Linked DNA regions of Homo sapiens: region 1 is linked to region 2. Evidence: fine-mapped expression QTL. A gene starts in region 2. The other region holds a variant in brackets. All regions are shown on one strand. Distances are from middle to middle.

Evidence for each region. PIP is the estimated chance that this variant, and not a neighbour inherited with it, causes the effect. A credible set is the group of variants that fine-mapping cannot tell apart.
Region 1: its variant is the best candidate, but not a certain one, in a credible set for the expression of CARF in pancreas (GTEx, PIP 0.63).

What each region holds. Positions count from the first base shown.
Region 1 is chr2:203,253,150-203,258,530 of GRCh38, reverse strand. All of the region lies in intron 4 of CYP20A1 (cytochrome P450 family 20 subfamily A member 1), which reads right to left. Among named protein-coding and RNA genes, the nearest start is that of CYP20A1, 17 kb to the right of the region's middle. The variant G/C (reference allele first, on the strand shown) is at 2,191.
Region 2 is chr2:202,909,688-202,915,068 of GRCh38, reverse strand. CARF (calcium responsive transcription factor) reads right to left here and starts at 2,794. Exons shown (of 17, transcript NM_024744.17): 1 at 1,967-2,794. WDR12 (WD repeat domain 12) reads left to right here and starts at 3,396. Exons shown (of 13, transcript NM_018256.4): 1 at 3,396-3,633. The coding sequence starts at 3,593. RefSeq lists enhancers at 2,514-2,563, 2,664-2,863, 2,904-3,053, 3,064-3,213.

The DNA of each region.
Region 1 (5,381 bases), 340 kb before region 2:
ACCAATGTATTAATTAATGCTTACAGTGGACTGAGAAAGTCAGTCTCAAGTCTTAAATGGAAAGTGTGAGTTTCAGCTAGAACTTCCATATGGGAAAAATGGCATTCAACATTTACTAACCGTTTTTTTTTTTTTTTTTTTTAAACATAGGGTCCTGCTATGTTGCCCAGGCAGGAGTGCAGGGGCTATTCACAGGCACAATTATCACTCACAATACCCTTGAACTCCTGGGCTGATGCGATCCTTCCTCCTGAGTAGTTGGGAATACAGGCATGTGCCACTATGCCCAGCTTCCAAATGTAATTTTTAAAAGTGGATACTGTAAAGGCCTGAGGCACAGTGGCTCACACCTGTAATCCTAGTGCTTCGGGAGCCCGAGGCAGGAGGATCACTTGAGACCAGGATTTTAAGAGTAGCATAGGAAATATAGTGTGACCGCATCTCTACATAAAAATACAAAAATTAGCTGGGCAGGGTGGCACGTGCCTGTGGTCCTAGTTACTCAGGAGGCTGAGGCAGGAGGATCCCTTCAGCCCAGGAATTCGATGCTCCAGTGAGCTATAATTGTGCCACTGCACTTGAGCCCAGGCAACAGTGCGAGACCTTGACTGAAAAAAATAAAAAAAGATACCTGATTTACCCTAATGTGATTATTACACATTGTATGTCTGTATCAAAATACCTCATGTACCCCATAAATATATACACCTACTAAGTAACCACATTTTTTTTTTTCTTTTTGAGATGGAGTCCATGCACTGTTGCCTGGGCTGGTGTGCAGTGGAGCGATCTCAGCTTGCTGCAACCTCTGCCTCCTGGGTTCAAGCAATTCTCCTGCCTCAGCCTCCTGAGTAGCTGGGATTACAGGCGCCTGCCACCACGCCCAGCTAATTTTTTGTATTTTTAGTAGAGACGGAGTTTCACTTTGTTGGCCAGGCTGGTCTTGAACTCCTGACCTTGTGATCCACCTGCGTCGGCCCCCCAAAGTGCTGGGATTATAGGCGTGAGCCACTGAGACCGGCAAAAAAAAAATTTTTTAATGGATATTTTTAAATTTAATAAGGCATACTCTTAAGAGAACTACCAGATATTTAAATACAAAAATGCTTACAATGTGTAGTCAGAACATTTTTAGGAAGAATAAACAAAGTTATAGAAGAGGGAAAGGAAAATAAACCCAAACTGACCAAATGGAATTTTTTTTTTTTTTTTTGAGACAGTGTCTCACAGTCGCCTAGGCTAGAGTGCAGTGGCGCAACCTTGGCTCACTGCAACCTCTGCCTCCCAGGCTCAAGCGATCCTCCCGCCTCATAGACTCTCGATTAGCTGGGACCACAGGCATACACCACCATGCTCAGCTAATTTTTCTCTTTTTTTTTTTGTAGAGACAGGGTCTCATCACGGGAGGCCAAAGTGAGTGGACTGCTTGAGCCCAGGAGTTTGAGACCAGCCTGGGCGACATGGTGAGACCCCAACTGTATGTGAAAATTTTAAAAAATAATAAAAAACAAAAAAAAATCTTAATTTTATGTAAATATATCCAGTTGTTATGGAAGTTTAGAGATGGTACATGGAGGGAAGCATATTTAACTAAACTGGAGGCTGGAGTAGAAGTTAGCCATGCAAGGCTGGGAAAAATGTTTCAGAGGAGAAAAAAGACAGACCTATGGAAGTAAGAGAGGAGTCAAATAATTTAGGAACATTAAGTTATCAGTATTCATTCACTGATGTAATAAATATTGACTGAGGGCCTGCTCTATAACAAGAGCCAAGTATACAGCAGTAATCAAAATAAAATAGTCCCTACCTTCACGGAGCACACACTTAAGTGAGGGAGACAGACACTCAAAGGATTACAAAAAATAGAATTACTGGTGGGTGCGGTGGCTCACGCCTGTAATCCCAGCACTTTGGGAGGCTGAGGCAGGCGGATCACCTGAGGCTAGGAGTTTGAGACCAAACTGACTAACATGGCGAAACCCTGCCTCTACTAAAAATACAAAAATTACCGGGCGTTGTGGCATGCACCTGTAATGCCAGCTACTAGGGAGGTTAAGGAAGGAGAATTGCTTGAACCCGGGAGGCAGAGGTTGCAGTATGCCAAGATTGCACCACTGCACTCCAGCCTGGCAGACAGAGCGAGACTCCATCTCAAAAAGAAAATAAAAATAAAAATAAATAAATAAAACA[G/C]AATTATAAACCGGGAAAAGTGTTGTAAAGGAAAGGCACGGGGTGTTATGATAGCATCTAAAAGGGGAAACTGGCCGGGTGCAGTGGCTCATGCTTGCAATCCCAGCACTTTGCGAGATGAAGGTGGGAGGAACACTTGAGGCCACGAGTTCAAGACCAGCCTAGGAAACATAATGAGACACACGTCTTTACAAAAAATTTTAAAAACAACTAGCCAGGCATGGTGGCACATGCCTGTAATCCCAGCTACTCAGGCGGCTGGGGTGGGAGGATCCCGTGGGCCCAGGAATTTGAGGCTACAGTGAGCTATGATCAGGTCATTGCACTACAGCCTAGGCAACACAGCAAGACTCTGTCTTAAAAAATTAAAACAAAATAAATAAAAGGGGACCTATCCAGCAATGTGGGATGATCAGAGATAGCGTCCCTGGGGAAGTGACATTTAAACTAGGAGCTGAAAAATGAACACACATTAGCTTGGTGTGTGGATGACTGGAGGTGCATTCCACGCAATGGGAATAGCATAGACAGGCCCTGAGATAGGAGGGAACAGGGTACATCTGAAGACTTAAAAGAAAACAAGTATGGCTAGACTATAAGCCAAATGAGAATGTGGGAAACCAGGCTGGAAAAGTAGCCAGGCTAAATCATAAAAAGTCCTGAAGACTACATTAAAAATTTGGAGTTTGTCCCAAGAACAAAGGGGTTTTCAAACTAGAGTCCACAGATACCAAAGGGTCTGTTCATGGAATCCAGTGCAGTCCATGAACTTGGATCAGGGGAAAAAACAATCTTTCTTTTTAACTAACCTCTGAATGAAACTTAGCATTTCCTTCAATTGTGAGTATAGGCTCTGACTTTTTAAACCAATACAAATCTCAAAATATGTTCCGATTATAAATACTGGAAAAATCTCATAATAATAATTTTGGCCCTTGCATCACTACTTTAAAATCATGGAAGTTTCTGGAAGGATTATTAGATCTTGCTATTTAATACGTTAACAAAGAGGCAAATATAATATCATAGTTTTTTTAAAAAGTATTAATATTTTGTAACTATATTGGTTTGCTTTAGCTATGCATTTAAAAATGTTATTCTCAGGAGTTGAAGGTTTCATCAGACTGCCAAGAGGTATCTGTCAACTGCAAAGCACGGGAAAATACATGGGAAGGAAAGGGGAAAGAGAAATAAGCAATCCAGGTAAGATCATGGAAATCTAAACCAGGGTGATGGCAATGCTGGTGGGAGAGAAGTAGATCAATTAGAAAGGCATTTAGAAGGTAAAATTGACATTAGAGATTCTTTTCAAATGTGATTTTCTTTTCTTTTTTCCTCTTTTTTTTTTTGGAGACGGAGTCTCACTCTGTTACCCAGGCTGGAGTGCAGTGGCGCAATCTTGGCTCACTGCAACCTCCGCCTCCCAGGTTCAAGTGATTCTCATGCCTCAACATCCTAAGTAGCTGGGACTACAGACACGTGCCACCACGCCCGGCTAATTTTTCTGTATTTTTAGTAGAGATGGACTTTCACCATGGTGGCCAGGCTGGTCTGGAACTCCTGCCCTCAAACGATCCACCCACCTCAGCCTCTCAAAGTGCTGAGATTACAGGTGTGAGCCACTACACCCAGATCAAATGTGATTTTCAAAGAATACTAAGTGCTATAAAAATGCTTACAATACAATGGTAAATAAAAAACACAAAGACTATCCACGCAGTATAATCTGATTACATTAAAATTCTATTGTGCACACAAAACACCGGAATGATAACAATTTTTTTTTTTTTTTTGAGACGAGTCTAGCTCTGTCGCCCAGACTGGAGTGCAGTGAGTGGCATGATCTTGGCTCACTGCAACCTTCACCTCCTTGGTTCACATGATGCTTCTGCCTCAGCCTCCCGAGTAGCTAGGACTACAGGCATGTGCTACCACACGCAGCTAATTTTTGTATTTTTAGTAAAGATAGGGTTTCATCATATTAGGCAGGCCAGTCTCGAACTCCTGACCTCAAGTTGAGGCAGAAATTTAAAAATAAATATGCATTCATTCACTCTAAGTAACAGGGAAGGCAAGGGTTAAAAATAAAAGAACAAGGCCGGGCACGGTGGCTCATGCCTGTAATCCCAGCACTTTGGGAGGCTGAGGTGGTGGATCACAAGGTCAGGAGTTCAAGACCAGCCTGGCCAAGATGGTGAAACCCCATCTCTACTAAAAATACAAAAAATGAGCTGGGCATGGTGGCAGGCGCCTGTAATCCCAGCTACTCGGGAGGCTGAGGCAGAGAATTGCTTGAACCCAGGAGGCGGAAGTTGCAGTGAGCCGAGATCACGCCACTGCATTCCAGCCTGGGCGACAGAGTGAGACTCTGTATCAAAAAAAAAGAAAAAAAGAAAGAAAAGAACAAGTTTTCCTCTGCCTAGCAAGCTCACTTCAAGGACAGTTATAAGATAACACTGTCCAGAAAGCCAAGGCCAAAGGAATAGGCTCCAAACACCACCACCCCCATCCAGAGCAAGGTTAAAGGAAAAAAAAAAAGAAAAAGAAAAAGACAAATTTTTTTACTGTTACTCCTTTCCTTGGCTTCTTAAGCATGATTATGTATTACAAATGTCTGTATTTAACCAGTTCTTGTTTTTCTTTCAATGCAGCTACAAGCTCACCAGCTATGCAAGGCCACAACTTATGTTATGCTATAGATTATGTGACCTGTCACTGTATGATTAACTGCTTTTGTTTTGCTTCTGTAAATCTGCTTATAAAAACCACGTTCTGTCTTTGTTCAATGTTTAGTTTTTTGGATGTGAATCCACTGAGCCGGTGCGTACCTTAAAATAAACAATCCTCCTGTTCTCCATATCAGTCTCTCTGGTCCTCAGTTCCCCACAACATTTTTGGTGACCATGAAAGGACCCGAGATGGCAGGCTTACTGTCTCCTTTGCCTCTGGAGGATGGAGCCCGGAGCCCTGGGCCAGGGGAGACCTGTCACCCCAGGCACTGCCGGGAGAACTTCAGCCCATAGGGGAGATCAGCTCTCCCCTGACCTGGCGCCCCTACCCAGCAGCACAACAGAACCTAAAGAGGGGCTATAGGACAATTTCAGAAACAGTGCGCTTCAGGAACCGCAGTAAGGTTTTGGGGCCCAAGGCAGGACCCGTGGGGACAGAAGGGGAGCCTGATCACCTCCTGG
Region 2 (5,381 bases):
CTCCAGCCTCGCGACAGAGGGAGACTCTGAAAAAAAACAAAAAACCAAAAACAAAACAACAAACACCACCACCACCACCAAAAAACCCTCCAACTCAAAAAATAAAAAAATAAAAAAAAGCACTTTTTAATTTTCAGGGAAAAAAAATCTAAGGCTGGTGTTCACAATGTCAATTTTATTTATGGTTTATTCTCACTATAAGCTTCCCTGCAATCCATTTCTACCCATGTTTTACTCTGCACAAACTTTTTACCTTTTTGCTCTGATTTTTTGTTTGTTTTTTTTTTTTGAGATGGAGTTTCACTCTTTTTGCCCAGGCTGGAGTGAAGTGGCGTGATCTTGGCTTACTGCAAACTCCACCTTCCAGGTTCAAGCAATTCTCCTGCCTCAGCCTCCCCAGTAGCTCGGATTATAGGCACCCCCCACCATGCCTGGCCAATTTTTGTATTTTTAGCAGAGACGGGGTTTCACCATGTTGGCCAGGCTGGTCTCAAACTCCTGACCTCAGGTGCTCCACCCGCCTCAGCCACCCAAAATGCTGGGATTAGGCTGCTCTTTGAGAGCTTTACAAATTTATTTAATCCTTACAATGACTCTGAGGTAGATCTTCTTGTCTCTGTTTGTAGATAAGAAAACTGGAACTGTCAAGAAACTTGCTTAAGATCACAGAGTGCATTAGGCTTGGATCCATAATCAAATTGGAAAAAAAGAAAAACACAAAGAACAATTAAGACTCCAAAGCCCTAATGCATAGTCTTTGTATCCTATCACACTGTGGCATTATATATATAAAACAAAAAACTTTATAATAAAGAGAAATGTATTTTCCAAACTGTGGTTCTCCAGATAACAATGTGTCTCCATGAGGACCATATAGTAAATACATCCCATAAAAAATGATTACCAACCAAAAGCTTGCAATTAATGTTCCAACTAAAGAAAAAGACTCAAAGTAAAAGCATCAGCTATCCTAGGTACTGTTTGGAGGCAACACCAAACACGACACATAAATCATTGTTGAAAAAAACCGTAAAACATAATGCTGGGTATTTAGTTATGTTGAATGCTAAAACTAATCTTTCCTTAACTAAAGGTCTCCGTCAAATGAAAAGTGTATTTTAGTCAAGTCAGGATTTCTGTTTTGCAAACTGAAAGTCTTATATTATTAAGCATATATTCAGGTTATTTTCCTGATCATAATTTTCAAATCAAATTAAGATCAAACTCTACTGTCAGGTACTGTATATTCTCATTTTGATAAATTTCAAATTAATGATAAAAATGTATTAACCTGCTGGTCAATTATACATTTTATAAATATATTTTAACCAATGACATATTACCAGTAAGTACAGATTCAACGGCAAGATTTCATTAAGAAAGTGTTTCAAGCTTCAGATGCCCAAGACTTATTTAATGTGTAAATCCTCACCACTACAATAACCACATGGTTAAACGATCACCACTTCCATTAGCAAGCTCAAGCCTAATAAGTGATCTCCTGGGACTTCAGCACAGAGGTTTTCTAATTTTATTCCTCCACTCAATGTGGCTATTCTCCCTTATCTATTCACGCTGGCAAAGCTTCTAGTTAAACTGGAATTAGTAACTATTTGATGATAATAATTAACATATACTGAGTGCTTCCGATGCCGCAGTTAATTCTTATAGTTGATAAAAGTGTGGCACAAAAAGGTTAATCAAGTAGCAGAGGCAGGATTTGAACCCAGGAATTCTGGTTCCAGGGCCCGGATTCGGAGCTACAAAGGTGAGTAAACTGAAAAGAGTCCTACTTTTATTGTCATTGCTCTCTAATAAAAATTATTTTTTCTTCCAATTGTTTAAATCTCTTCTCATTCTCTATTTAAATATTAGGCGTTCATTTAAACATTAGGCGTCTACCTTACAGTAGGACATCTTTAAACAACGTAAAAAAGGAAAGCTTTGTCTTCACCTGCACACATACCGGTCTGCCCATAAATTTTGCAATCCAGTTCTGCCTGATTCTAAACTGCTTGTCTCTTGAAGCGAATGCCTTAAAAAGTGACATTGGGATCAGGATAGTTATCTCCATCCATCCTCCCTCAGAAAAACAACTATATTAGAGTAATTCTTGGGACCATTGAGAACAATACACAGGCCTTTGGGTAACTTCAAGACAAAAAAGGCAAAAAGTCGGGGAGAAGGTGTGGGAGGATGATTTTCCCCTTCTAAACGTAAGGTATAAAAGGGCTCAGAAAGCGGAAAAAGAACCCTAAAAAGCAAGGTGCGGGACGGCGTGAGGGACCACACATTGGGCGCTCCGCCCAAGGGGTCCGGCTCCTTCTCCGCGGCGATGGCGCGTCCTTGGGCTCAGCAACCCTCCTGAAGACACCTAACCTCCTCCTTCTCCAGCCTGCCCCTCTGGGGCCTGCGAGCCCCGTCCCGGGCCGGGGGTCGGAAGCCGTGCCATGTGGGACCCCGAAAAGGCCCCCAAGCTTGGCGCGGAAGGCGCCGCCAGTGACCGGCTGCGGCTGGGGGCGGAGGCCGGCAGTTGCTCGGAGCTCCGGCGGGTCAGGAGGTGACGGGAGGAGGAGGAGGCAGGAGGAAGACGGGGGGTTGGGAGGTAGCGTCCGGTAGGTCTGCGCAGACAGCGCTGCCAGACCTCTGACTCCCCCAGTCCTGCCGCCGCCGATAGCCCCACAAGGCGACATGGGAAGTCCGCCGGAGCAGAGGGGAGAAAATTCAAAACGAGTCTACTCAACCTCGTCTTGGCTCCGAGGCCCCGCCATGGAGACCAGCATAATGCGCAGGCGCGCCCCACCGGGAGCGCGCAGAGCAGTCCCACGACAGTAGGACCACTATCGGCCACCGTCGACCGTTTCCTCTCTCATCCGTTCTTTTCTTTGTATTTCCGCCTCTCGCCTCTCTCTAAAAGCCGCAGTTAGAGGCGAGATTTAGGAAAAACCTCTGCCGAGTGAGCCTCTGGTTGGGAATATGTATGAGAAAAAAAAACTGGCAAGGCGTTAGTCAAGCAAAGCTGAAGGCAGAGGAAATTTGATATCTGGCTGGAGTCTAGAGGATTTAATGCAAATAAGATACTCTGAGGGCAGCGTGGCAAAAAAAGACTACAATTCCCGGTGGTCACAGCGTTTGAGAAGCGATGCTTTCTGAGACTTGTAGTAACTAGGAGCTGTGTTTGAACTATCCAGGCTCAGGACAGCCTCTTGAAAAAAAATTTTTTATTAATAAAGCGGATTTGAGTGGGATCTTTTTCCTAATCGATTACGGGCCCACACGTATGGGAAGAATTCTAACAATGATTAAAGGGACATGCTACCTTTACGACTATCCTTTTCTAATCGATGACTCCTAAATCTAGGAGTAGGTAGTCGATGTTTGTGGTCTGGGCGTCTGTAGAAGGGCAACCTCGTGCTTTCTGCAGAGGAGACCGGAGGGCAGAAGGCAGAGTCCAGGCTTAGACTGCAGTTCCTCGCTTACCTGTGCAGTCTAATTTTGAGCTGCCTCTTTGTAGTCTTAAAAGGCAGGAGCTTCGTGTTGTGGGTCTGCTAACCCGTACGTTTCCGTGGGCAAGTCGTGTGTACTCCTCGCCATGGCTCAGCTCCAAACACGCTTCTACACTGATAACAAGAAGTAAGTAAGCGTTCCAGCCTTCTCTCCCTTCCCCAGGTTCCTTTCCGACCACCCCTTTGGTATGACCTTGTGGATCCCTGGTTGTTTCTGCTGTCACCCCCACCCTTTTTTCTGAGATTACCTGCTTTCTAACCAGCTTCGTAGGTTCTATATAATTTGAATTGTGAGTGTGGAGGAGGCTGAAGGGCTTCAGGTTTGCTTTCTGAATGAAACATTTTATATGTGTAATTTAAAAATGAACAGTGGGCCTTGTTATAGGGTGTCTGCTAGTGGTGGTTCACAGTTTTTGAAAACGGAAAAAAAGTTTTTGAAAATGAAAAAACATATTTACCATTTATGTATATCTATATAGATATATAAACATTTTAACCAGTGGTCTCAAGGTCTGTTAGCACTCATTCGAAAACTAATTATATGCTGCCTTGTGGTATATATTGCATTGTTAGCTTTCTTTGTGTTTGCCTGGTCTCTTCCAACTATATTGGAAGTCTCTTGAGGGCAGGGACTATATATTAATTAAGCTTCTTGGATTGGCTGAGTCAACAAAAAATGTCAAATTTTTCAGTGAAAATGATAATATTTGTCGTGTTAATAAGCTAAAGTTAGCCATAAACTAGGAAACTCCCACCTGAGTTACATCTGTGGTTTTGTTTGTAGCTTTATGAGGAGAGCTAGTAAATCATCTTCTCTCCCCTTGTGTTGTTGCTGAAAGTATACATAAATCGTATTATCAATGCACCTGAGTATATGTACTTACTTACATACATTGCCTTAATACTTCTCTAGGAATGTGGTGATGCATTAACATAACCACTGTGTTTTTTAATTGAAAGTAGGTTTTTTTGTTTTTCTTAAAATAAAATTTTTTGAAATATGTGGGGCTTTTTTTTGTTTGTTTGGTTTGGTTTTTTTGGAGACAGAGTCTCACTCTGTTGCCCAGGCTGGACTGCAGTGGTGGGATCTTGGCTCACTGTAACCTCTGTCTCCCGGGTTCAAACAATCTTCCCGCCTCAGCCTCCAGAGTAGCTGGAATTACAGGCATGTGCCACCAAGCCTGGCTAATTTTTGTATTTTTAGTAGAGACAGGAATTTGTCTTGGTGGCCATGCTGGTCTCGAACTCCTGGCCTCAAGTGATCCGCCCACCTCGGTCTCCCAAAGTCCTGGAATTACAGGCATGACCCACTGCGTCCAGCCTTGAGATAATTGTTGATTCACATGAAGTTGTAAGAGATAATAGGCCACTGTGTTTTAACCCCTGAAATGAATGGATACATGTCATATGTGTGTGTGTGAATTTAGGCCCTCCAAAAGGTAAAAAAATGTAGAAATTAAAATTCTTTGCCGAGTGCTGTGGCTCATGTCTGTAATCCCAACAGTCTGGGAGGCTGAGGAACGCAAATCGCTTATCTCAGGAGTTTGAGACCAGCCTGAGCAACATGATGAAACCCCGTCTCTACCAAAAATACAAAAAATTTGCCAGGCATGGTGGTGCCCACCTGTGGTCCCAGCTACTTGGGAGGCTGAGGTGGGAGGATCTCTTGAGCCTGAGAGGCAGAGGTTGCAGTGAGCCAGGATCAATGCAACTGCACTCCAGCCTGGGGAACATAGTGAGACTCTATCTCAAATAAATAAATAAATAAATAAATAAATAATAAAATTCTTGCTTTTTCTTTTTGCTTAATATTATGGTCAGTAAAATGGAGGCGGGGGGCTAATATAATTGTCACACACACACACAAGAATATAC